Linked DNA regions of Homo sapiens: region 1 is linked to region 2. The links come from fine-mapping of genetic effects on gene expression. A gene starts in region 2. The other region holds a variant in brackets. All regions are shown on one strand. Distances are between the middles of the regions. Region 1 overlaps BRCC3 (BRCA1/BRCA2-containing complex subunit 3). Region 2 holds the start of BRCC3 (BRCA1/BRCA2-containing complex subunit 3).

Region 1 (2,914 bases), 52 kb after region 2:
CTTATATAAAATTTAACTCAAAATGTATAACGGACTTAAATGTGATACATAAAACTAGATAACTTTGAAAAAAGCCACAGGAGAAAAATCTTCAGGATCTTGGGCTAGGTGACAAGTTCTTGGACTTTGCCCCGAAAGCACATCCATAAAAGACAAAATCTGATATATTGGACTTCTTCAAAATTTAAAAACTTGTGATTTAAGAAGAGGAAAAGATAAGCTACAGATTGAGATGAATTTGCAAACCATATATCTGATCAATTTGGAATATATAAAGTGTACTAAAAACTCAACTGAAGTCAGGCATGGTAGCTCATGCTTGTAATCTCACCACTTTGGGAGGCCAAGATGGGAGGAGTGCTTGAGGTTAGGCGTTCCAGACCAGCCTGGGCAACATAGTGAGACTCTTGTCTCTACAAAAAGTTTTTTTAAAAAATTAACTGGGCACCATGACACACACCAGTAGTCCCAGCTACTAGGGAGGCAGGAGGATCACTTGAGCCCAGGAGTTTGAGGCTGCGGTGAGCTGTGATCACACCACCACACTCCAACCTGTGTAACAGAGTGAGGCCTCATCTCAAAAAAAAAAAAAGGCCACAAAACTCAACAATAAAAACAAACAGTCCAATTAGAAAATGGGCAAAAGACATGAATAGATGTTTCACTGAAGAGGATCTATAGATGGCAAGTAAGCATATGAAAAGCTGTTAAACTCCATAAGTCATCAGGGAATGCAAATTGAAACCACAGCGAGGCTATGACTTACTTATCTCAATGGCTAAAGAAAAAATAGTGAAAATACCAAATACTGATGAGGATACAAACTGGATATTTTATACATTGCTGACAGGAATGTAAAATGGTACAGCCACTCTGGGAAAGAGTTTATGAATTTCTTATCAAGTTAAACATAATTTTTTAATCAAGTTAAACATAAGACCCAGCAGTTGTGCTCCTGGACATTCATTCCAGAGAAATGAAAACCTATATTGTACTTGTACTCAAATATTCATAGGAGCTTTATTTGTAATAGCCCCAAACTGGAAACAACCCAGATGTCCTACAACAGGTACATGGTTAAACAAACCATCCATAACTTGGAATACTGCTCTGGAATGAAAAGGAACTAACTGTTGATACAAGAACTTGGTTGTACCTCAGGGGTATTATGGTGAACAAAAAAAAAACCAGTCTCAAATGGTCACATACTGTATGATCGCATTTATATAACATTCTTGAGGTGACAAAATTATTGAAATGAAGAACAGATTAATGGTTGCCAGGGATAGGGACTGGAGGGGGTGTGGGGTATGTATGACTATAAAGGGATGACGCAAGGAGTTCCTTTGTGCTGATGGAACAGTTCTATATGATTATGATGATTACGATGTTGATTATAACATTTGATTATGAGGTTAAGCACATGAGTCTTTACCTGTGCTGAAGTTGTATGGACCTACATACACACAAATGAATGCATGTAAAATCTGGTGATACTGAATAAAGTCTGT[G/A]GTCTAGATAGCAGTATAATATTATTGTCAATGTCTTGGATGTGAAGTTGTGCTATAGTTACAAAACCGTACCACTGGAGGAAACTGGGTAATGGATACATGGGACTCTGTACTATTTTTGCAACTTCCTATAAGTATATAATTATTGCAAAATGAAAAGTTGTAAGTTTTAAGTAAGGAACTGGGACGTATGGTACCTATTTTATGAAATAAGAAAAGGGTGCTAGAAAATTTGAGGGGAATAAAACGATTGGAATATTTTTACATGCCAACCTTTAGCACAAGTCCTTTTCCCTTTCTGGGTTTCATTTTCTTTAGGTATAGAATGAGATTAGAGTAGTTGACCACCAAGGTTTCTTTTAGCTCAGTGTCCAGTCTTTAAAAGTGTTGAGCATCACAAGAAACAGTGGTGTGAACAGGATGTATCATTATTTTCCCAGCTGCACCAATCTGGCTTACCTTTACACAACCCTGTATCCCCTTATGAACACTAGATTCTCTATTCTCAATCACATCCAAGACTCTCATGGTAACTGTATATACTTGTTCTCTCTGTTTTCTTATCTCCTATAATTTCAACTCATTGCCTTGTGACCTCTGTCCACAGCACTTCATTGAAACTACTCCTGCCAAAGTCACCAATGAGCTCCATACAGTGAAAGTCAATAGTTGCTTTTCCCATCCTTGATGAACCTCTCAGTATTGACACAGTTGGTCACTCCTCCTTGAAATCTACTTCCTTGGTTTCTCTTATTTTCTTCTCTGGCTATCCTTCCTGCTATCCTTTTCTTCTCTAGCTGTTCCTTCTCAAATTCATTCATAGACTTCTCTATCTTTGCATACCTATATGCAGTTGACACACAAATCTGTATCTGTCCACGCCTCTATCTGAACTCCAGACCTACATTTCCACCTCTCTACTGGACATTTTTTTTGAGACAGGGTCTCACTCTGTTGCCCAGGCTGGGGCGCAGTGGCATGATCATGGCTCACTGAAGCCTCGACCTCCTGACCTCAGCCTCCCAAGTAGCTGGGACTACAGGCACGCACCACCATGCCTGGCTCATTTTTTTGTATTTTTTTTGAAGAGGCAGGGTTCCACCATGTTGCCCAGGCTGGTGGCAAACTACTGGGCTCAAGCAATCCACCTGCCTCGGCCTCCCAAAGTGCTAGGATTACAGGCACGAGCCACCGTGCCTGGCCTCCACTTGGCTGTCTTAATGGCACATAAAAATTAATATATCTAAATCTGAAATCATGGTTTTCAATCTAAACTATATTCCCTTCCAACATTTCTTACCTCAGTGAATAGTGAATGTAACATCCATTTGCACAAACCAGAAACCAAATAGACATTCTTAACATCTCTCTCCATCACCTTCTAAACTATTTATATTGATAAA
Region 2 (2,855 bases):
CTGCTCCATGAGGACGGGGCATACTAGCCACAAACAGTAACTGAAAATAACATATGATATAAAATTGAAACAAGAGAAAATTTAGACAGGTCCAATGTAACTGCACACGAAAATTTTCCAACCTTCATCATGATCAAATTAATTATAGAAAGATGTGCCATGTGATCCTTACAGATCGTTAGGTAAAAACGGAGGCTGCTGGCGTGCACATTACAGATCGTTGCACTGGATGGGGACCCTATGTGTGGGGAGACTTGGGTTGGAACTGACTTGGGAGAAAAGAGCAAAGCATCAACACTTCAAGTAGCACCTTGGGAATGTTCCCTTTCCAGTACTGCCATACCTGCCTGGCTTCAAAACTACACAAAGTAGAAAACCAAATCAAAGACACGAACACGGACGGGCTGTGGAGGCGGCACGGCATATATTGTGCTTTGATTTAGAATCGCTTTCAAAATCCACGTGTGATTCCTAGACTTGTGAGTTGGAAGATCTGTACTTTTATCCTTGGCACGTTTGACATACCTCGAAATAAAAATTACTTTTACATATATTTTTACTGTCTGATATCATCGAGACAAGGAGACCCGAGGAAACTTGCATTCTGGATACCTAATGTGATACATCCGAACTTGAATAAAAACTGAAGTTCTCCATTTCCCCTTCCCTGTATCCAACAAATAGCTACCTAAAAGCCTTTGTAGAAAGTAGCAGCAGCCAAGCTTAAGAGTGATACTTTTTCAGATACAGTATAACACTGTTTCTGCAAAAGGTTACTCACATGAATATAATGTTTCTTGGGCTAATTAATCCGCCTTGAGAACAGCTAGGCTAAAACTTCCAGGTCTCCCACCCTGGGCCACTCAAGCCAGGATCGCGACGTGAGCCCGGGGTGAGCCGAGGGGCATCCCGGGCCGAGGTCACTCGAACCGAAGTTATGAGGCGCGGGCCGGCAACCGGAAGTGGTCCAGGGAGAGTTGTACGAGATTCGGGGGCTGTGACTTGGAAATAAAACAAAATAAAATAAAACCTTAACTGTTTTGGGACTGACTTTCAAAAGAGCGTCCCCCTGGCTCAAGAGGCCGGCGTTCGCGGAGATGTCGTCTTAAAGGGCTGTCCCCCAAGCGTGTAGGCCGCGCACGGGTCTCCTTAGCGGGCGGGCAAAATGGGCGCCGGTACTCGGGAGGCGCCTGCCCAGGCGCCCGGGCGCCGCTCACAGAGTACGTCCGCCTGCGGCCCCAGAGCGCCGCCTCCCTGCCGCCCCCGCCGCCCGGCCTGACGCCCGGACCGCGGCCGGCCACCGCCCTCCGCCCCGACGGCCACGCCTGCCCCAAACCGCGCGGGCGTTTCCCAGGTGCTGCTGGGCGGGCCCCGCCCCCGTGCCCCAAGGCCCGCCCCCGCGCGCCAGCCGCGCGCCCGCTGCCCCCTCCTCGCCCCCACAGCCCCGCCCCCACAGCCCCGCCCGCTCCCTAAGCCCCGCCCCCTAGGAACCCGCGCGCCGAAGGCCAGGCCTGGGCGGAGCGCACAGCGCTGGGCGCTGGGGAGGCTGCGCCGCAGCACCCGGTTGGTCAGGACCAAGTGGGCCCGAGGCGGACGTGAGAAGGGTCGGGCCAAGATGGCGGTGCAGGTGGTGCAGGCGGTGCAGGCGGTTCATCTCGAGTCTGACGCTTTCCTCGTTTGTCTCAACCACGCTCTGAGCACAGAGAAGGAGGAAGTAATGGGGCTGTGCATAGGGGAGGTGAGTAGGTCTGTTAGCCTGGATGGAACCCTGCTGAGCAGTCCCAGTGTGTCCCCGGGGTGGGTGCCGGCAGCTCCCAGGGCTGCGGAGGCCACAGGCATCCTCGATTTAGGTCCTTGGACACCCTTTACATAGCTCTGTCGCGGGGAGCCCCGTTTCTTCTGGCCGCCTGACACTTGTTTAGTCTCCTGCGAGCCCCCGGCGGTCTGTACAGGCCCCGGGAGCCTTGCCCTTTCTCCTGTAGCCTGGGGCTTCTCTTTAGATCTGCGCTTTTCGCCCGGTTGACCAAAACTGCAAGGCAGGTCAGAAAGACACTGGAGTATAATGAGGATGTCCGGGTATTACGACGCAGCAGCTGACCACAGTTAGAGCCCCTTGCCTCGCCTCGAGTCTTCTGTCTAGGGAGCAGAGATATCAACCAAAGCATTTGAAGGGTATCGAAGAGCCTAACAGAAGGTGCGGGGCTTGAAGGAAGCAAAAGTTTCCGCTGCATTGTGTTGAGGAGGGGCCGAAGAGGATGAGGAAATACAGTTTAGCTGTTTACAGTCTAAAGTAATTCTCCAGTCTTTCATACCATGTGCGTGAACACATGACCTAATTGTCATATAATCTGCATCCATATATGTCAAACAAACGTAATGTGATCAATAATGTTTTTTGCTTTTTCCCACTCTAGTTGAACGATGATACAAGGTAAGACTGTATTTGTTTACTCATATCTTATAATCTCTAAGTCATTGTTAACCTAAAATTATGGCGACTTTGGCAGTATTGTGTCCGGATCGTGTCTTAAATTAATTACCATTATCACTCCGGGGCTCCCTTAATGATACAACCTTGAACTTTGGTTTCTGCCTTACCTCCTATTCAGTTGAGATATGGGATAAACATCTTAATAAGCATTATCATAATTGTTGCGTTTTAGGGGTGAGACAGAGCCTCACTCTGTCGCCCAGGCTGGAGTGCAGTGGCGCGATCTCTGCTCACTGCAACCTCCGCCTCCCAGGTTCAAGCGATTCTCATACTTCAGACTCCCGAATAGCTGAGATTACAGGTGCCCGCCACCACACCCGGCTGTCTTTTTTTTTTGTACAGACGGGGTTTCACCATGTTGGCC

The links.
Region 1: its variant is fine-mapped to the expression of BRCC3 in whole blood (TOPMed, PIP 0.94).

Annotation. Positions count from the first base shown.
Region 1 is chrX:155,121,548-155,124,461 of GRCh38, forward strand. It overlaps BRCC3 (BRCA1/BRCA2-containing complex subunit 3), which reads left to right. Exons shown (of 11, transcript NM_001018055.3): 11 at 1-1,530. Among named protein-coding and RNA genes, the nearest start is that of BRCC3, 51 kb to the left of the region's middle. The variant G/A (reference allele first, on the strand shown) is at 1,512.
Region 2 is chrX:155,069,913-155,072,767 of GRCh38, forward strand. It overlaps BRCC3 (BRCA1/BRCA2-containing complex subunit 3), which reads left to right and starts at 1,596. Exons shown (of 11, transcript NM_001018055.3): 1 at 1,596-1,738; 2 at 2,415-2,431. The coding sequence starts at 1,616. It overlaps CMC4 (C-X9-C motif containing 4), which reads right to left and starts at 1,224. Exons shown (of 3, transcript NM_001018024.3): 1 at 782-1,224. MTCP1 (mature T cell proliferation 1) reads right to left here and starts at 1,224. Exons shown (of 5, transcript NM_001018025.4): 1 at 782-1,224. RefSeq lists enhancers at 852-1,151, 1,136-1,857, 1,622-1,841, 1,852-1,901, 1,858-2,579 and a silencer at 1,192-1,511.